Regions from separate parts of the Homo sapiens genome. Here regions 2 and 3 are each reported to be linked to region 1. The links are microRNA targets in miRTarBase. Many come from high-throughput screens and were not tested one by one. Region 1 holds a microRNA gene; each other region holds the end of a gene's coding sequence.
What was found. The annotated mature microRNA hsa-miR-6769a-3p reads GAGCCCCUCUCUGCUCUCCAG and lies in region 1 at 4,047-4,067, shown strand. An mRNA with a match to its seed (bases 2 to 7 or 8) in the 3' UTR can be bound and repressed. Matches are read on the target gene's strand: a 7mer-m8 pairs with bases 2 to 8, a 7mer-A1 pairs with bases 2 to 7 and ends in A, and an 8mer does both.

Region 2: miRTarBase lists SLC8A3 as a target of hsa-miR-6769a-3p. Seed matches in the 3' UTR shown: 7mer-m8 at 2,423-2,429.
Region 3: miRTarBase lists FBXO28 as a target of hsa-miR-6769a-3p. Seed matches in the 3' UTR shown: 7mer-m8 at 3,659-3,665.

What each region holds. Positions count from the first base shown.
Region 1 is chr16:4,667,324-4,674,522 of GRCh38, forward strand. It overlaps MIR6769A (microRNA 6769a), which reads left to right and starts at 3,995; the gene lies at 3,995-4,067. MGRN1 (mahogunin ring finger 1) reads left to right here. Exons shown (of 17, transcript NM_015246.4): 8 at 942-989; 9 at 4,068-4,136; 10 at 6,175-6,334. RefSeq lists enhancers at 5,745-6,334, 6,335-6,922.
Region 2 is chr14:70,039,975-70,047,173 of GRCh38, reverse strand. SLC8A3 (solute carrier family 8 member A3) reads left to right here. Exons shown (of 7, transcript NM_182932.3): 7 at 851-2,959. The coding sequence ends at 1,227. Among named protein-coding and RNA genes, the nearest start is that of SNORD169, 65 kb to the right of the region's middle.
Region 3 is chr1:224,157,108-224,164,306 of GRCh38, forward strand. FBXO28 (F-box protein 28) reads left to right here. Exons shown (of 5, transcript NM_015176.4): 5 at 245-4,940. The coding sequence ends at 639. Among named protein-coding and RNA genes, the nearest start is that of DEGS1, 23 kb to the right of the region's middle. RefSeq lists enhancers at 3,240-3,534, 5,305-5,805 and a silencer at 3,240-3,534.

The DNA.
Region 1 (7,199 bases):
GGCGAGGCTGGGTCTGTTCTCTCCCGGGTCCAGGACCACAGACTGTGGTGACACAAGTGCCCTGGGCAGAGGGCAGCCTTCTGCCTTTTTAGTACTGGGCTCCCCAGCTGCTCTCCCCGGCCCGGACTCGTCAGAAGCCACGGTGACTATTGACACATCTGCATCCTCTGGCAGAGGCAGATGGGACATCTCTGGCAAAATGGTCTATTCTGTGCTTGAAGTACAGAACCCAGTGGGAAACTGCTTTATTTTTGGAGTCCAACATTCTGGAAATTTCTGTTAGAACCCACCAGCCTCACTGGAAAATTCTGAGTGCTGATGGTGGTTGACTGAGAAGGGATAATGAGTGTTGTTGCGAGGTCTCCGATCTCAAGCCGTAATTAACCTTGTTGAACTCTGAGCGGTGGTGTGTTTCCCTGGATACCGCCGGGTGTGCTTGTTCTATTTCGTTCCTGCGTTTTTAGAGCTTTGCGGTTCCCTGTGTGTGCACCACTGTGCGTGCTCCCGCTCTGTCTTTCTAACTCAGCCGGGCCTGGGAGAGCAGGAAGCTGTTTTGTCTGTCTTGATTCTTGCTGCCAGGTGATACTTCTCGGTGTGCAGGAGGCCCTTGTCCATCATCTGAACTTGGCTGATTGGCATTCAGCTTGAGTGTGCTTGAGACCAACCGAGGAGAGTTGGGTTCTGTGGGTCAGCAGAGGGTCCCCGGGCTGTGTGTTCTGGAGGCCTCAGATAGTTGCACAGCCAGGCCTGAGGCCGTGTTTTCAGAAATCCCGGCTCTTTCGCTGTCAAGTGGCCCCACCCTTTTTTTTTTTTTTCTTTTTTCTTTTTCCAGCTGTGGGCATGGATTGGCTGGGGCAGGGTGGCCAACCCAGGCGGCCACGCAGGGGTGCTCAGAGGCGCCAGCTTGACCACCTTAACCTCTTTGTCTTTCTCCCCTGCAGCACATGGACGGCAGCTTCTCTGTGAAGCCTTTAAAGCAGAAGCAAATTGTAAGTCATCAGAGGAAATATGACGTGCTTGAATTAAAAGACACACATATACAATCACTCACACGCATACTCATACATAGACACACACTCATACACACGCACATATACTCATACACGCTCATACACACTCATACACATTCACTTGCACATATATACGGACACACATACATACCATCAGACACTCACATTCACACATATATAGACACATAAACACACAGACACACACATACACACATAAACACACTCCTACTCGCACACACTCATACAGACACGACACTCATACACACATACACTCACACTCACATGCAGTCATTCAGATGCACACACTCAGACACACTCATATACTCAGTCACACACATATACATAGACACACTCGTACACATACACACATACACTCACACTCACTCACATATACATAGACACATACTGATACACACACATATACCCATTCACACACACATAGACATTCATACACATATACACATACACACACGTATACAGACACACACTCATACACATACCCACACATATACTCACACACATAAACTCACATGTATACTCATACACATATACATAGACACACATTCACTCGCACACATATACAGACATACATACACACAATCACTTGCACACATATACATAGACACACTCATACAATCACTCACGCACATATACAAAGACGCATACACTCACATAGACACACACACATACACATATGTACAGACACACATATACTCACACACACTTATATATAGACACACACACACACTCTTCAGTAGTCTTCATGCACTGGTCTTCCTAGGCTACCCTTGCTGCTGCCTTTGAAATAACTGTGCAGGGGCTGGGCGCAGTGGCTAACGCCTGTAATCCCAGCACTTCGGGAGGCCGAGGTGGGCAGATCACTTGAGCCCAGGAGTTTGATATCAGCTTGGCCAACATGGTGAGACCCCGTCTCTACTAAAAATAAAAAAATTAACCGGGTATAATAACACATGCCTGTAATCTCAGCAACTCAGGAGGATGAGGTAGGAGAATGGCTTGAACCCAGGAGGTGGAGGTTGCAGTGAGCCGAGATCATGCCACTGCACTCCAGCCTGGGTGACAGAGGAAGACTGTGTCAAAAAAAAAAAAAAAAAGCTGTGCAACAGCCTGTTGACTTCCCTGTAGAGCTCTAAGCTCTGGGACGACGGGTCCCTGTCTTGGGTGAGCATATATGTTTTGCGTGCCCGCCATGTACAGGGACGCCTGCAGGCCCTGAGTTCTGTCCAGTTTGAGCCATTGTGTCTGGAACATAGTGTTAAGTAAATATTTGCCGAATGGATGGATGGAAAAGGAAGGAAAGAGACCAGAAACAAAGTCTGCAACTCCTTCTCCTCTTCCTTACAAATTGTCCAATATGTCAGTATTGGACAGAGACTTAGCTTGACTTCATCAATACTTGAAAAGAAGGATTAAATAGTTGAGAATAAATGGAGCTATAGAGCAGTACATCTGTTCTCTGGGGTCAGCGATCCTGGGATGCTGCATTGGGAAGTGTTATTCCTGGTGGCCTCACAAGTAGGCACCGAGAATTTAGAGGATGGGGTGCCCTAAACAGCAGTGTTAGATCTTGCTAATGAGATGTCCTAGGCCACAGCTAACAGTTACTCCGTGTGTACTGTTGGGGCGCATAAGACCTGTTTCAAGCCACCACTTGGGAATGATTTTTGTTAGTTTTTAATTTTTTAAATATTTAATTTAATTTTAATTTTAATTTTATTTTATTGAGACAAGACAGAGTCTCGCTCTGTTGCCCAGGCTGGAATGCAGTGGCGCGATCTCAGCTCACTTCAACCTCTGTCTCCCAGGTTCAAGTGATTTCTCGTTCAGGCTCCCAAGTAGCTGGGACTGCAGGTGTGCGCCACCACAGTTGGTTAATTTGTTTTGTTTTATTTTGTTTTGTATTTTTGAGATGGAGTCTCACTCTGTCGCCGAGGCTGGAGTGCAGTGGCATGATCCCAGCTTACTGTAGCCTCCACCTCCTGGGTTCAAGTGATTCTTCTGCCTCAGCATCCCGAGTAGCTGGGACTACAGGCACGCGCCACCATGCCTGGCTAATTTTTGTATTTTTTGTAGAGATGAGGTTTTGCCATGTTGGCCAAGCTGGTCTCAAACTTTTGGGCTCAAGTGATCCACCAGCCTCGGCCTCCTACTAAAGTGCTGGGATGATAGGTGTAAGCCACTGCACCCGGCCATCTGTTAGCTTTTTAGAAGAGAGTTTGTCCAGGTGCAGTGGCTTATGCCTATGATCCCAGCACTATGGGAGGTGGAGGCAGGAGGATTGCTTGAGCCTGGGGATTCCAGACCAGCCTGGGCAATGTAGCGAGATCCTGTCTATTTAAAATGTAAATCACAATAAACAAAAGAGAGGTGCAGCAAACTCTAGCAGGTCCAGGTCCCTGCAGGTACCAGGGGAACAGGAGACCCCAGTGATGGTCAGGGCCTTGTGTTGAGAGAGCTGACCAGCAGGCCCTGGGCTCCCTGGAGTGGTGCTCCTGGCCCATGGTCTCTGGGAAACCCAGCAGCACAAACCGCTTTGCAATGTGGTCAGCGTGAGGCTTTTTGGTTGCAAGTGGGTGGCAGGACAGAATCAGCTTGGAGACATTGCTTTGGCGTCTTTGAAACCAGAGAGGCTTCATGCCTTTTGGAAGGAGGATCTGGAAAGCAGTGGGAACTTAGGCTGCTGTCTGGTGCCTTCAGGCGTCAGCTCCTGCTTTCCTCGTGGGGCTGGTGGTGGTGGAGCCAAGTGGTGTTGGGGGTGGTGAGGCGGTCAGGGGGTGGTGGTTGGGCCTGTGGGTTGGCTTCAGGCCCCCAGTAGTGGGGAGAGCCACCGGCTCCAGCCCTGTTCCAGGTGCTGCTGGTTGGGTGGGGGCAAGCAGCAGGTTTTCCCTGCCCTTCTCCTGGCCCCCAGGGGTTGAGCTGGACTGACCCCTGGTATGGAAGCCTGGTAAGTTGGAGGCAGGGCTAGGCCAGGTGGGTATGGAGGAGCCCTCATATGGCAGTTGGCGAGGGCCCAGTGAGCCCCTCTCTGCTCTCCAGGTGGACCGGGTCAGCTACCTCCTGCAGGAGATCTATGGCATTGAGAACAAGAACAACCAGGAGACCAAGGTGTGTATCTGGGTGAGGTTTCCCTCTGCCATTACAGAAGCCCACACCAGGAGCAGCCGCGGACAGCAATGCTTGCCGGTTCCCTTCCATGCCTTCCCCTGGAGTCCTAGACCCGCTAGACAACATCATTTTTCCTTAATTTTTTTTAAAGCTAACAGTTTAGGGAACATTTTATCCTTTCTCCAGCAAATTCACTAGCTTCTGATGTAAATTGCCATCCAGGTTCCCCAGGGCAGCCCAGGAATGGGGGCCAGTGTCTCACCCTCTAGGCTCAGGTGTGTGGCACCCTGCTGCCCGGCTCCTGCCCGCCTCCCCAGAGACAGCACGTCCCTGCAGCTCCTGGGGGAGGGATGCTTATTCTGTATGTCCATAGAACCAGTCCTGGTGCCTGACAAATAAGCCGTGGTGTACCCCAGTCAGGGAATGTAGCAGGGGATGAAATTAGTTTTTTTTGTTTTTGTTTTTTGAGTCAGTCTCACTCTGCTGCTCAGGCTGTAATGCAGCAGGGAGATCTTGGCTCACTGTGGCCTCCGCCTCCCGGGTTCAAGCGATTCTCCTGCCTCAGCCTCCTGAGTAGCTGGGACCACAGGCACGCGCCACCACACCCGGCTAATTTTTTGTATTTTAGTAGCGACGGGGTTTCACCATGTTGGCCAGGATGGTCTTGATCTCCTGACCTTGTGATCCACCCTCCTCGGCCTCCCAAAGTGCTGGGATTACAGGCGTGAACCACCGCGCCCAGCCTAATTTTTAATTTTTGTATTTTTAGTAGAGATGGGGTTTCACTATGTTGGCCAGGCTGGTCTCAAACTTCTGATCTCAAGTGATCTGCCTGCCTCAGCCTCCCAAAGTGCTGGGATTTCAGGCCTGAGACCACCACGCCTGGTCGATGAACTTGTTAAAAGGCACACTGACATGAGTGAAACTCCTGCCTCTTAAGATCTCTTGGAAAGTCTCACAGGCCCGCTTCATTATGGCATCTGGGCCCAGGACAACTGGAGCAGCTCCACGTGGCGGGAGCGGAGCACCTGGCCGGGCCTCGCCTCAACCCAGGGAAGTCAGTGCATTCATGTTTCATACCAGGGGGCGGCCCACTTTGAGAAAAGGTTCAGAGAGGGAATGTTTTCAGCCGCCCGGGCATATGGTCTCTGTTGCACTGACTCCACGCTGCCATTACAACAGGAGCAGCGGGGACTGTATAAAAATGAGTGGGTGTGGCGGTGTTCCAGTAAGATTTTATTTATAGAAACAGGCCACAGGCCTAGTTTGTGGACACCTGTTTTAGATTTTTGGCTTTCTTTTTGTCCAGTTGCTAATGTGGTTTCTGGTAGCTGCCATTAATGAAAATACTTCTAACATATTAACTTGTTTTTTGTTTTTTTTGTTTGTTTGTTTTGAGATGGAGTCTTGCTCTGTTGCCCAGGCTGGAGTGCAGTGGCAGCCATCTTGGCCCACTGCAAGCTCCGCCTCCTGGGTTCACGCCATTCTCCTGCCTCAGCCTCCTGAGTAGCTGGAACTACAAGCACGTGCCACCATGCCCGGCTAATTTTTTGTATTTTTAGTAGAGACGGGGTTTCACTATGTTAGCCAGGATGGTCTCGATCTCCTGACCTCGTGATCTGCCCGCCTCAGCCTCCCAAAGTGCTGGGATTACAGGCGTGAGCCACCGCGCCTGACCATTAACTTGGTTTTTTTTAAACCAAAGATAACGGGTACCCTGACCCTCAGGAAGATGTGTTTCTTAGGTGCATCTGTTCCTCATTTTTTCTTTAGGTCTGAAGAACAGAAAGAGACCATGTTCTCATGATTTGGGTGGGTGAGGGGCACAGACCCTCCCCCTCTGCCAGGTGCTGAGTTTGCACTGGATTTGAGCCTGGTGATTCTGCTCTGGGGCAACCTCCCCCTCCCCTCTGGACTTCTCTTTGTCATGACAGCCCCCAGGGTAGGGTGGAGTGGGGTGGGACAGCTGGGGACAGGAAGCAGGAGCCGTACTCTGGCCTTTGGGAGGCTGCTGACCCACAAGCCCTTGTCCCGGCAGCCCTCGGACGACGAGAACAGCGACAACAGCAACGAGTGTGTGGTGTGCCTGTCCGACCTGCGGGACACGCTGATCCTGCCCTGCCGCCACCTGTGCCTCTGTACCTCCTGCGCCGACACGCTGCGCTACCAGGCCAACAACTGCCCCATCTGCCGGCTGCGTGAGTTCCCCGGCCGGCTGTTCTGTGGAAGGTTCTGGAAATTAGGGACTGGCCACACCACGGTGGTCCTGGGATAGGGGGCCACAGGTCCGTTGATGGCTAAGAAAGAAGAGTTGTCATTCATCTAGTCTGTGCTGAACGTGGGCGTGTTGGCTGTCGGAGTCAGTCACCGTGAGAGAGCTGGCAGGGACGCTAGCACGGGGCATTCAGATCTTCACGTCTGCCTCCAGCCAGGCAAGGCTTGCAGAACAAAGGGCTACAGAGGCGCTCCAGGGCAGATGAACTGAACGAAAATTGATGAGTGAATGAAATCTTTATTCTTATTTTATTTTTATTATTTTTTGTTTGAGACAGTTTCGTGCTGTCGCCCAGGCTGGAGTTCAGTAGCGAGTTCTCAGCTTACTGTAACCTCTGCCTCCTGAGTTCAAGCAATTCTCCTGTCTCAGCCTCCCTAGTAGCTGGGATTGCAGGCAACTGCCACCATGGCCAGCTAATATTTTACTTTTATTAGAGATGGGGTTTTGCCATGTTGGCCAGGCTGGTCTTGAACTCCTGGCCTCAAGTAATCTGCCTGCCTCAGCCTCTCAAAGTGCTGGTGTTACAGGCATGAGCCACCATGCCTGGCTATTTTATTTTATTTTATTTTTTTGAGATAGAGTCTCGCTCTGTCACCCAGGCTGGAGTGCAGTGTTGCAGTCTCGGCTCACTGCAAACTCCGCCTCCCGGGTTTAAGTGATTCTCCTGCCTCAGCCTCCTGAGTAGATGGGATTACAGCCCTGCACCACCATGCCTGGCTAATTTTTGTGTTTTAAGTGGAGATGGGGTTTCACCATGTTGGTCAGGCTGGTCTGGAACTCCTGACCTC
Region 2 (7,199 bases), not on the chromosome of region 1:
CATTTGAGGCTTTAAGAAGGTTACCCTGTGATCCACTCATCTGATTTAGTGGCTTTGGCTGAAGCTCTTTGGATATAGTTGAAGGTATGGAAAGGGTCCTTACATGAGGACTTTAGGGTCAAGTCTCTTGCTAACATCCTATGTGACCTTGGGTAAATTCTTTGACCCTTATTTTTCTTACCTGTAAAATAAAAGAATTGGGCTAGATGTCTCTGACAGTCCTCCCTGTATCTACAATCTGTGCCAAGATCTAAAGTCAAACACCCTGCAAGGCCCTGTGATACATATATAAACCACAAAGACAGAGCCCCGTCTTCCTTGAGTCCACAGTTCACCCTGCATGTCCCCATCATGGTTCCCCAACATGTCCTCTGTCCCCAAAATCCAGCACCTCACCCAGTGCTCAATCAGTAGGCATTGCTCAATAACTGTTGGTGGTTCGTGAATAAATGCCCCATATGACAGTTAAAATCAGGCATCTACTCCAAGCAGCTTCCCAGGGTGTCAAGGTTCCCTGGGGAGATATTATGGGATGGCAAACTTCCCTTACTGAAAAAGTAGTCAAAGGAGAACAATAAGCCCACTCAGTAAATATCAGAACTGGAAAGCCCTTCAGAATCTTTCAGATCACTGCAGATGAGGAATGGGAAGCCCAGACTAGGGATGTGACCTACCCAGGGCCACACGGCTTGCTTGCGGCAGAACTAGGAGTTAGGAGTGGCCCCCTAGCCCTTGTCTCTCATTCCTGGGTTCAGCCCACCAGCTCAAGCTGCTTTTTGGGCATACTGGAAGACAAGCCCTGCACACCTTAGCCTCCTACCAGTTCCCATGTGTCTTTGTCCTTTTCCAGATACGTTTGCCAGCAAAGCTGCTGCCCTCCAGGATGTATATGCAGACGCCTCCATTGGCAACGTGACGGGCAGCAACGCCGTCAATGTCTTCCTGGGCATCGGCCTGGCCTGGTCCGTGGCCGCCATCTACTGGGCTCTGCAGGGACAGGAGTTCCACGTGTCGGCCGGCACACTGGCCTTCTCCGTCACCCTCTTCACCATCTTTGCATTTGTCTGCATCAGCGTGCTCTTGTACCGAAGGCGGCCGCACCTGGGAGGGGAGCTTGGTGGCCCCCGTGGCTGCAAGCTCGCCACAACATGGCTCTTTGTGAGCCTGTGGCTCCTCTACATACTCTTTGCCACACTAGAGGCCTATTGCTACATCAAGGGGTTCTAAGCCACACAACAGAGCCTCCAGCAGGGCAGGCCTAGGACTTCTCCTAAGAGAAGGGCACTTCCCCACCAGTGATCTCTCCCGACTGCACTGCCCTGGAGAGGCAGCATCAGGACCTAAGCCCCAGGAACTTCACCCAACTTAGGCCCTGGCAATTAACTGAAAGGGCAAAGTCTTAATCAATCAAACAATGGAGGAATCACCGACTTTACACAGTATTTAATTGAATACAAACAAGCAACAGCAACAAATCCACCTCCACCCCATCTCCCCCTCATATCCCTGACCCAAAGCAAAGGTCAGAGCCTTTCGCCTCCTTCTATTCCATCTTTTGATTATTCCTTTGCCTCTCATTTCTTTGGAAGCAGGGTTTCTCCTCTCTGCCCAATTCCATATGTCCCTATTATCTCACTCAGCTGACAAGACGTGAAAATGAGTCACATTCATGTGGCTGGGGTGGGGTTCTTTTTTCATTGTAATCATTATTGTGGTTGCTTTCGTTTTGCCATTAGGTTTTGCTTATTATTTTGTTTTGTCTTTTTTTTCTGAAGTGAGTGAAAAAGGTGCCACAAAGGAATTCCAGGTCCGAGCCAACAGAGAGAAACATGAATTTTTAGACACATGCTCTCCTGCCACCTCTTGGCTCCATCAAGATCCAGTTCCCCATCTCACTGTTTTCTCTGAGTTCTTGGGAGGAGTGATGGTGTTGGGGTAGAAATAAGCTCACTCACCCACGCAGGGTACTAAAGATCTTACAGGAGCTTCAACTGGAGCAGGAGGAGCTTTTTATGCTTATGTTGAATCAAGTCAGATACAAAAAGCAATTGTCCCTCTTTGCCCAAGCCTTTCCAATTCTGTGTGTCTTGTTGTGTCAGTGTCCACTTGTGTATCCTTCTGCAGGAAGACCCGCCAAATAGAAGAGATGGGACAAAAATAGGAATGGTGTGTGACGACAAAGGGCTACTGGAAGAACAAAAGGGATACAGGCCTTCTTGATTATCTTTGGCTTTGTACCTGAGGCAGGAGAGAAGAGATGTCCAACCAGTGAGATCTTTAAGAGAAAAGTTTGTATTTTAAATGTCAATGTGCCTGAGAAATGTCAGCTTCACCACGCTCTTGCTTCCTAATGCTCTATACAAAGAGGGCTGACTATATTTCTTGAAGTGGTGTAAAAACTTAGAGATTTTATAAGAGAACCAGGGGCTCCCTTCACCTCTCCTGGTCCCTCAGGTCACATATGAAAGCATTTTTACAAGATAGGAACTGGAATTCCTCATTTCTCCCATGTTCCTGCTTGTTCTTAAACTTCATGAAGCTATTTTTCCAGCCTATGGGGTAGTTCTTGCTCCAGTAAGAGGAATCTTAGTTGTCATAATCCCTTGGAGCCTGGGTTTTTGGAGAAAGAGATCTCCGTGCCCTACAGACCTTTTCTCAACGAATGTGGGAAGGACCTGGCTTTAAAACACGCACACAAACACACAAATAAACAGACATAAGATGTCATCACGAAACTGCCCACGGATCTTTAGGCTTTCTGCATTGACATAAATACATTTTCTAAGGGGGGGGGGGAAGAAATTAAAAAACACCTGTTAATTTTAAACACATTTTTTAAGAAAAAAATAATTAAAAAAGAAACAGTGCTCATGTCATAAGCTATGTTGACAGTTGCCAGTGGAAATGTTGGGTTGGTTCAAAAAAAAAATAAAAGCTATACTATATCTCTCTACATACAGCTTGCTTCTACCTGTGTTTCTTCAGTGAAAGGTCCAGGGGGCCACTGTGGGCTTCTTGTGAGGAGACGTGACTCAGGTGAAGGTGTCACCTCCTCTCACACTCAGGTGCCAATGTGTCAGACCCAGTATATTCTAAGCAAAAATACTTCAGGAAAATGCCACTTGTCAAAACCTGGACTTTGCGAAGTTGGAAGATGTAAGTAGTAGTAAAAGCTGTGGTAATTATGGAGGAAGGAGGTTTCTGTATCAGAAAGGCATTGGCCGTGACAGACTCCAGCTAGGAAAACAGTGCCCTGCACCTATTACCAACAGACATGTCTTCACTCATTCATTTACTCATCATTCATTCAACAAAAAATTTAGGAGCATGTTGAATATATTGAATGACACTCTGGTGATACAAAGAAGAGCAAGACATAGTTCCTGACCTCAAGAAACTCACAGTCTAGGCTGGGCATGGTGGCTCATGCCTATAATCCCAGCACTTTGGGAGGCTGAGGTGGGTGGATCGCTTGAGGCCAGGAGTTCAAGACAAGCCTGGCTAACAGCTCTACTAAAATTTTTAAAAGTTAGCCAGGCATGGTGGCACATGCCTGTAATCCCAGTCACTCAGGAGGCTGAGGCACAATAATTGCTTAACCCAGGAGGCAGAGGTTGCAGTGAGCCAAGATTGTGCCACTGCACTCCAGCCTAGGCGACAGAGCAAGACTCTCTCTAAAACAAAACAAAACAAACAAACAAACAAACAAAAGAACTCACAGTCTACATGGGGCAAGTGATCAAGAAGCCCACTAAACTTGTTCAAAGAACAGGGGCAATACTGCGAAGGCCTGGTGGCAGGATCTTGTGGAACCCAAGGCAGGAGGCACAGCCAGGCCGTAGGAGCCTGAAAGCCATCAGGAACTGAGCCCACATTCCCTACCTCCCCCAAGCCACCTGGCCTCTCTCACCCTTGCTTCCCTCTGCCCATTGGGCCCATCCTCTTCCTTTATCTCCCAAGGTGCTTCCTCTGATTTATTTTCTTGCACATAGCCCAGCACAGTCACCAGCCCTGACACTATATCATGACCTCACAGCTTTGATCACCACAATGAACTGGAACTTCCCTCTTTTCCTCTGAGTGCAAATTCTCTATCAAGAGAATATGGTCAACTCTCCATCTCCAGAGGGCCATTCTGAGAAGGCAGAATCCTTTGTAGAAGGCAGTCACAGTGCCTATGGACTGGGTGCTTTGTGTCAAATGTTCACTTCTGGTACAAACAACCCAGGTGTGGAGAGGAGGGTGATGATCACATTGTAGGTACTATTGCCCCTTCTAAAAGCCAAGTGATGGGAAGAGGTTTATGATGCATGTGGACACCAAAGTGCAAATGCTAATGGCAGTCCTATGCCCTGAACACTCTAAGAGTGACCTAAACAGAATGCCATGGGAACACAATGGAAGGAAACATTAACTCAGCCTGGAAGAATTGGGAAAGACTTCACAGAGAATGTAACAGGTAAGTAGGATCTTGAAGGAAGATGAAATCATGATTTACTTTGGTGAGGGGCTTCATATTGAAGGATGGACAAAAAGTGAACAGCACATTCAAAGGCACAAGGGTAAAGCATGACACGGCACAGTCATGGAATGGCAGCAGTAAGCATGGCTAGGATAGAGGTCAAGAGGAAGGCTAAGGGTAAGTGGATCCTACCTGTGGCCCCACTGTGCCCTCTGCTGAGGTTTAGAAGGTGTCTGCAGTAGGGTCCTGGGCTTAAACTTATGGCCAAAATTGGGGCTGATAAAGCAGCATCAGGAACACAATTCCTACCATGGAGGCTAAGAACAAGATGTCAATGGAATTTGTGAGTGAAACAGATTAGCACAAAAAGCAGGCAGGGAAAAATGGTTGGACTAAAAGCCTCATTCAGTTTTTTGCCAGCCACTAAATTAAAAATGAAAAAAAAAAAAACCTTTTAGCAGATTAAATGGTAGATGCAAAATCACAAAATCACAAAATCCATTTGTGTCCATCATCGCTCCCATTTTCTGAGTCCTTTCTGGGTTATCCAGGTGTTAGGCTTTGTCAAAACAGAAGCTGGAATGAACCATAGGAGGAGAATTGAGGAATTCATCCCAGGAATCTGAAGCCCTGGGTACTAGTTTAGATGCCCCCACTAACAATCCATCTTCTCTTTGGATGCATTGTCTCCCTGGATCACAATTTCCTGAACTATAAAGTGAGGTTTTCATAAATGACCTCTGAAGTCAATTACTTCTAGCTTTAATATTGTGATCCTAGAATATATACAAAAGTAGTGTGTGTGCATGTGTGCACACATGCACGCACACGTGCATGCACACACTCAAACTGCCTGGCTACCTTAATTGACACACCATTGCAGATGCCCCTTTGCAACTCCTTGGCCCTATGGCCTGTGTATTATTCAATATGAAGAAGACATTGTTAGCCATTGTGCACGTGTTCATTTTCAGCACTTCTTACTGATTGAGCCACAACATGCCCATCCCTTTGGCTCATTTTTCACTAGGGTCATGTTAGCTGCTGTAATAAACCCCAATATTTCAATACCTTATCAAAATAAAAGTTTATTTCTCACTCCCATAATAATCCAATAAAGATGTTCTTGGTCAGCAGGTGGCTTTCTTCCATGTGATGATTCAGGGACTCTGTTTCCTTCTATTTTGTAACTCTGTCGGACTCTGGGGCCCTGGAGTGTTTTTCATCTATCAGTAGATGGCACAAAAATTAGAAAAAGCACACACACACTTCTGACTACCTTGATTTTGAAGTAGTACTCATTACTTTCGCTGATATTCTTGTATTAGTAAAAGCTGGTCACTTCAACCCACTCACAAGCAAAGTAGACTGGGAGATATCATCCTTGTGGGGCAGCCACTTCCCATTGACCATTCTATACTACAAAAGGATGAAATGTGTTTGAATGTTTGCCTCTGCCACACTCCCTTTGTGATTAAAGATAGATATTTTTACTATCGATGGCCAAGAGCAATCTGACCTATGTCTATGTGGGTTTTCATGGTTCACAAAAAGCTTTTCATATACATGTGTTTGAGTCTGATAAGAACCACAAGTGGTAGATATTCTTATTTTATCAACGAAGTTCTGAGAGGTTAGATGATTTCCCAGGAGAAAGCAGATAGTAAGAGGCAGACACAAACACAGGTCTTCTGATGCCAAATTCAAGCTCTTCCCAGAATATTATGAACCCTTGTGACAAACACCAGAACAAAGAATGAGACTTAGAGGAAGCTGGATCTAGCCAGCGAGACAGAGTTCCCTAGAGAGGCAGCCAGGGTCCAGGTGGGGAAGGTGAGGGAAGGCGAGGGAAGGCGAGAGAAGCCAGTCAGCACTGGTTCTCTCACCCTCCCACAGTTCCCTTCTCCTCTCCTTTGTCTCCATTCTTACTAAGCGAGGCACTTCCCCTGGGGGCACCTGAATGGATGATGTGCCAGTAAAAGCCAAGGGCAGACTGATGGAAATTTCCAAAAGAGAAATTTAACTGTGATAAAGCTATTTGGATTAAGGAGCCTGATTACAATTTTCTAATGGAGAGTCATCTGGCCCCAGGAAGGGGGTGATTCAAAAGACATCTTCTTGGGAAAGGGAATCCAAAAAAGACTCCTGGAACATGGCCCTGGTAGGTGTGACATATGGCATTTGTGGCATTTTCAGGAAGGAACAAAGGAGAAGGGAAGTCAAACTGACTTTACGAAAACTAAGATCAGCCTTTACTAGTAAACTTGAAGGCAATTCATTATTCTTTCTTTTCTTTTTTCTTACACTTTTACTGAAGTGTAACCAACAAATAAAAATTATATATATTTGAGGTCTACAAAATAATGTTTTGATATTTGTTTACATTGTGAAACGATCACCACAATCAAGCTGATTAGTATATCTGTCACCTCATATAGTTGCCCTTTTTTGTGATGAGAATACTTAGGATCTACTCTCTTAGCAAATTTCAAGTACTCAACACATTATCATTAACTATAGTCACCATGCTGGACATTAGGTCTCCAGAACTTGTTCCTCTTATAACCTCAGGTATGTACTCCTTGAGCAACAGCTTCCTCTCTCCCCAACCCATCCCCTGGTAACCACCCTTCTACACTCTGTGTCTATGAGTTCCAACTTTTGTAGATTCCACATATGAGTGAAATCATGCTGTAGTTGTGTTTTCTGTGCCTGGCTTATTTCACGTAGCATAATG
Region 3 (7,199 bases), not on the chromosome of region 1:
CCCTTCTCCGTTTCCTGGCAGTCTACATACTGCCACATGAGCAGGAGAATCAGAATTTAAACTCATTTATAGTTAAAATAAGGTGTTAAATTATGATGATTAACCCAACTGACCAAATGGATTGCAAAGAAGAAGAAATTATCAGAAGTGACATAGTAAGGGTATTCCATTTTTAAATAAGTGTAAGTATTACTGGTAGAGAGACATTTTAAGTGACTGACCCTTTTGAATTATTCCTCCACAGTTCCAGGACCGTCTGCAGCCCTAACAACAATGCAGCTCTTCTCCAAGCAAAATCCTTCAAGACAAGAGGTTACCAAACTCCAGCAGCAGGTTAAAACAAATGGTGCTGGCGTGACTGTTCTCAGGCGTGAAATTTCTGAGCTTCGCACCAAAGTGCAAGAACAGCAAAAACAGCTTCAAGACCAGGACCAGAAACTGCTAGAGCAGACCCAGATCATAGGTGAACAAAATGCACGGTTGGCAGAGCTAGAACGCAAACTACGAGAAGTAATGGAAAGTGCTGTAGGAAATTCCTCAGGGTCCGGGCAGAATGAGGAGTCTCCTCGGAAACGAAAAAAGGCCACGGAAGCCATAGACTCTCTTAGGAAATCTAAACGTCTTCGGAATAGAAAGTAAATTGGAATGTGGTTCTAGTTCCAGAGGAAGACACAGCTTAGTAGCTTAAGCAGTTATGCATATCAGGATACTGTGAGCAACATGGTGTCCCTTAAGCTTCTAGGCTTTCAGAACACAACTTAAACTTGAACTCTTATGGTTGGGACATTCTTTTCCTGCTTCTCCTGATTGAACTGATGCACAGAATCTTTTTACTTTGCAATAGATTTGTACTAACCAGACCTGTTCTATCATGTTTTGAGGAGTTAACTTTTTTCTGTGCAGATAATGTTGAAAGTAAGTTAATTTGTTTCTGCATATATGCACATACATACGTAAGGATCTTAAACCCAGTCTTGACAGACTAGAAGTTAAGTTTAATACAGAAAATGTCCTGTTCACTTGAAAGAAAAGACCTACTTTTTAAATGGACACTATCTTGGTTCTTTTTTTTTTAAGTCATCTTTTTGTTATAAGTGACCTTTGTCTGGAATGTCTGAAAAGTAGTTAATGCTTTTTGGTATTGAAGTAATGGGTAACTAAAATGGACTTCCATAGTATTGACTGTAGAAGGAGCCTCTACAATATTGACTATATATTTTTATAAACTACTGGCAAGGAACTTACCCAGCTGTTATACATGTTTTCAGTTCTCTTTGGGGGCCATGTCCTACATTTGCATGGATGGATGCATGCATTGCCTAGTCAACTCACTTAAAAAGCTCTTGCACTGGTATTGATCTTGAACCTCTATACTTCTCCACTTTTTAGAGCGGCGTCTTAGTTTATTTAAACGCTTAACATCTTCCACCGCAACAGCTTGCCTCTAGAGGGGGAATTGTTCATCCATTTGTCCTCCAGTTTTATAGGAACAAGAGACTATTAAAGCCCATTGCTTTATCTGCTCTCTGTAGGGTTCAGGTACACTGGCTAAGGCAGAACCCCAAATTTCAAGGCTCTTTCTATCAATATTGGACCTCTGGGAGCTAATACTCCTCTTTGCTCACCACCATGTGATCATTGATCAGATGTGGTGAGTGAGTAGGGGACTCGACTTGCGGGATGCAGTTTTGCCATTGCAGCAAAGTTCATTGAGGAAAATTGTACCATGAAAAAGCATTTTGATTATTTCATTTCTGGAGGATGACCTTGAGGGAAGCTTTTTAATATTAGTTTCAAGCTTTCCTTACCCTACAACTTTAAACAAAAGCTTTAATTTTGTTTGCACTCCTATTTTGAGCTTGTAACTGGAAAAGCATGTCTTGCACTGTTCAACCTCCTGAGTGGTCGCTTTAACAACCTCCAAATTGTGTACAGTGGTTATTTTCCCCAGTTGTATAGTTTTGAGACATTCAATTATCACTGTCTTAGTTGTATTTTAATTTACTAAATTATGTAGCTATTTGACTGTTAAGTTCTTTTAAACAACTGTTTCCTTGGGCTTCAGTTATTTAAAGTAAATTTAGGTGTAATATAGAAAACTGTCCCTTTCCAGGTGGGAGCTTAACACCTGTATAAAACCTAAGGTTTTGGTAAGTACCTTAGTTGAATAAAAGCACAAGGTTATCACCTTTTTTATCCGTCCACCGTGACATGGTTATGCATCCTTTAGATTAACCTCACCAAATGAAGCTTTTTCTATCCATTTTTAATATTGTCCTTACATAATATTGTCCTTAGATTTTGATCAATTCTATGTCTGACTTTGAAATTCCATTTACAATGTAGTATGTTTTCAATGAAAAACCATAAAGTAACATCCAAGTGTTTCATGGTTTGTTGGGAAGGTAATTTTAAAATAAAACAATTTCCAAAAAACATTTGTCAGCCAAGGTCATCCATAAAAGTCCCCGTCTGGAACTCGTTTTCTCAGCACTTCTCATTTTTATAATCATAGTATTTAGCCATATTAGCATATCTTTAGAGGAGGCCTGGTGGAATACCCGGGGCCTCTACTAGTCTGCTTTTCCGGTCATAGGAAGACTTTTTTTTTTACGTATCAAAGCATGTGTTTACAGATTTACAGAGTGTGATCCGTATGCATCAAAGGGATACAGCCCCAGACTGTTTCTTTAATGGTCATTCATGAACTATTAAAAATTTCCTGAATTTCTTTTTAAACTACATCTAGATAGCCTAAACATCTATGTAGTCTTCCATTAGTTAACATGTGTATAGGGCTTTCATAATAAGTAGTCACACTGTTACAAGGTAAATTTTCTATTACAAAATCCAAATTTCTATTGCATACACTTATAATCATCTATTCATAAAGCTAATTCATTGTACTTGTTAATGCATGAATGTTCCATGCAGTAGGAGAATAAAGCACTACAGTTCGGTTGTTCAAATCTTAAATCTTAGGCTATTTAGCTAAAACATGTTAGGATATTGCCTTCACCACTTGTTAGGACAGTTATTTGATAGCCATTATGCTTACCTATGGATAGCATAATGGTATTTAAGGTTCAACAAACCGCAGATTATTATGATCAGCTAGAACTGACATATGTTACAAGAAAACTGTAAATTAACCTCCTGAGAGAACCATTCTGCCCTGCATTTTAAGTCAGGTATTTAAATACTGCGTGTTGTTAATATTGCGTTGTCTTAGTGCAACATTTCTTAAAGTATTCCCGTTATCTTCCTTGGCTGTTTTTCAGAGGAGACGTCTCCATGTTAATGGGTCCTTCCCACATAGAAATGTATTCTGGTACAGCGCTGCACACATGGATAGCAATGTGAAAAGGCATGCCTAAGAGACAGAAACGGCTGACCTTACCCCACCCCAGCCGGATCCTCTGCTTATCTCCCACATGCACTTGGCTTAACTGGTTTTCACAGATTCTGAGGTTATAGAACCTGTTGTTTTTCAAACTCCTGTACAGAGCCTGGAAATAATGGAGCAAACGCAAATGTATTGAGAGTCATTATACTTTAAAATAGTTTTAAAGACTATTGGGGTACCATCAGGTCAAAAGCCACTGATTTGGGAAGCAATTTTTTTGCAAAACACTTTTTTTGGAGTACTGAACTTTACAGGGGCTTGCCTTAATCTCTATTTAGTAGTTTCAAGATATATGCGCAATTATTCTACGTGTTAAAAATGTTAAAATATTCTATGTAGCCCCAAAGGTGGGTAAAACAGTATAAGTAATGCCTAAATTAATAAGCTAAAAGGTGTCACTACAGCTGGATTTTTGAGAGAAAATGGACATAAAACTAGGCTATGTGTAATAAAAATAATGGCACCTTAAGATTGCACTATTTTATGCATTATTTTATATGCCATTTCATAGCCTGCACTTTAATCTCCAAAGAAACGATGTATGATGTCCCACTTGTTCCTTATTCTTAATAAACTTTTTCCTGAGACAGGGCACTTAATTCTATTTTACTATACTGAATTAGTTTCTTGGAGGTAGATTCATTTCTTGAGTTCTCTGTTTCCTTAGCCATAATATTTTCTAGGATCCGGGAACTCCCTATATTGTCTATTTCCAACATTATATAATTTTAATTTAATGTAATGTAAATCTCATACTTGGTGATCAGCACATTCTTATATCCTGCTCTAGCAATGAGTACCCATTTGTTACACTTACCAAACTCTCTAAAAACATATACTGTGAGTAAGATTTGAAGCCAGGAATAAAAGGCAGTCTGAAAGAAAACGTCCTATACGATGCAGTTGTTTGGAAATGGCTGATTTCTGATATGAAACCCAACTTGATACACTGTTTGGTTCTTTGACTTGGGATCTATCTGAATTGCTTTCACTAGTACACAAAAGGTTAAGTTAAAACTACTTTAAACTTGTATAGCCTGCCATCTGAGGTGAATTATTTTCAAAAAATACTAAATCTATGAACTGAGACTAGCAATTAGTTGGCTGCTCCCTACCATGATTTTACTTTTAATAGCAATACAGTTATATTGGTGATAAATATGACAGGCTTAAGTACTGCTGTCCTTTTGCATCTTCCTAAGCATCTTGGTTAAATTTCTGAAGTTTAAAAATTAGATCCAGATTTCTTCTGTTGTGTCTGAAGAGAACCATGACATTTAGAAGTATATTGGTAATCTATTAGGTCCATTGGCAAAGTATATTGGTCCATATTCAAACCTATTCCAAAAGGTTAGAAGTGTTTAAGATTCCTTTATTGTGGTACCATGTCTGTTTACCTATGCTTATGAGCAACAATAAATTACTAGTTTACCTTCTGGAATTTTAATTGTTATAACCGAATCAATTATTGGAAAGTGAAAAACACCTCCCGGTCACACAACAGGGTACGTAAATAAATGTGTTGTTACCAGTGCTACTTGTTTTCTTTGTATTTCATGCACAAAAGAATATGGAGCTCTATTGCTAACATACCATATTGATAGCTACTGTCTTTTGGAGCACTGTACTATGTGTTTTACAGATGTTACAGTGGTCCTCACAGCTACCTTATAAAGTAGGTTTTACTCTACGTGGGGAAGTTGAACTCAGGCTAAGCAACATGTCCACAGTGTTATGCAAGTAAGTGGCGTAAGTGGGATTTGACCCATGAGCTCTGAAGTTTATAAACTTGCTACTACACTACACTGCATCCTAGAAACCTGAGAACAATGAGACTCTGAACTTAATATAAGCAAGACCATCCCACACATCCACTAGAAGCAGTCAATGCCCAAATCACTAATGCTAACAGTAGTATATAGAACTGAGATCAAGAAAAGGCTGGGCTAGGCCGGGCACGGTGGCTCACACCTGTAATCCTAGCACTTTGGGAGGCCGAGGCGGGGCAGATCACAAGGTCAGGAGTTCGAGACCAGCCTGACCAACATGGTGAAACCTCATCTCTACTAAAAATACAAAAATTCGCCGGGCGTGATGGCAGGTGCCTCTAATCCCAGCTACTCGGGAGGGTGAGGCAGGAGAATTGCTTGAACCTGGGAGGCAGAGGTTGCAGTGAGCCAAGATTGTGCCACTGCACTCTAGCCTGGGTGACAGAGTGAGACTCCGTCTCAAAAAAAAAAAAAAAAAAGCTGGGCTTGGAGGAGGCAACTTTTAAGGTTATTTGCACACAAGGGGTTCACCCTAGGTGTACAAGTAAAAGAGAATGTTTAAAAGGCTTCCAGAACCTGTAATCTTAAAATCAGAGAAGTCCTGGCAGTAGATGTGCGCTAAGGCTACTGACATGTCTAAAGTCACCTTCTGGCCGGGTGCGGTAGCTCACACCTGTTACTGCAGCATTTTGGGAGGCCAAGGCGGGTGGGTCATTTGAGGCCAGGAGTTTGAGACCAGCCTGGCCAATGTGGCAAAACCCCTCTCTATTAAAAATACAAAAATTAGCCAGGCATGGTGTCGCACACCTGTAGTCTCAGCTACTAGGGAGGCTGAGGCATGAGATTCGCTTGAGCTGGGGAAGTGGAGCTTACAGCGAGCCGAGGTCACGCCACTGCACTCCAGCCTGGGCAACAGAGAAAGACTGTTTCAAAAAAGTCACCTTCCTGTATAATATATGCTGCTGGTCAGTAGAAAAGTAGCAACTACCAATTCTTTCACCCTGCGAGGGTGGGGTACTAGTTCTCTTTTCAAGACTACGTCCAGTTCCAAAACTAAATGGTTAGAATTTCAACAAAATAAAATTATATAAATCAGTTTAACCTGTTCCTTAAAGGTGTAACTGATAGGGAATTGCTGAAAACAATTCTCTGAAGAAGAGAAAACTTATCTAAGTTCTTTAACCCCAGCCTGTAGACAGCTTAAGATTTTCAGAAAAGAGATCACAGATAACTTTATACTGTGGGTGAGGGTGACAGCAGTGGTGTCAATTGTCCTAGCACCATTACTGCATTCTAGTCATCCAGATAGCCTAGAAAGATAAAGGTGGCTACTGTGTATCCCAGTCTTCAGAAGGTAGATGAGGGTGGAAATTTGAATTTTCATATTCTCCAGGTGGCTCAATTGCTGTGTAATAGATTCACGTTATTAGAAACCAAGGATCTTCACCAGTATTCTTGCTTTTTTGCTTTTCTTTAAAAACTTTTTTTAAAAGATCTCACCTGTATGAACTTTCCCATGTTAATTGCTGAACCAATTCTTACAGAATTCATTAAAGATGATGTTCTTTCCAAAAAGATGTATCTCAACTCGCTGGTATACATTCCTCTGGTTTTTTTGTTTGTTTGTATGGAGTCTCTGTCGCCCAGGCTGGAGTGCAGTGGCGTGATCTTGGCTCACTGCAACCTCCGCCTCCTGGGTTCAAGTGATCCTCCTGCCTCAGCTTCCCAAGTAGCTGGGATTACAGGCGTGCGCCACCATTCCCACCTAATTTTTGTATTTTTAGTAGAGATGGGGTTTCACCATGTTGGCCAGGCTGGTCTCGAACTCCCGACCTCAGGTGATATGCCCGCCTCGGCCTCCCAAAGTGCTGGGATTACAGGCGTGAGCCACCACACCCGGCCTACATCCCTCTGGTTTCTGATTAATCATTTCCTCAAAGCAAAATTAGAGTAAATCGTACACAGAAGAAATATGAGCAGTTGGGTGTTTGAGCAAAATGTACAACTGATAACTGGAAAGGAAA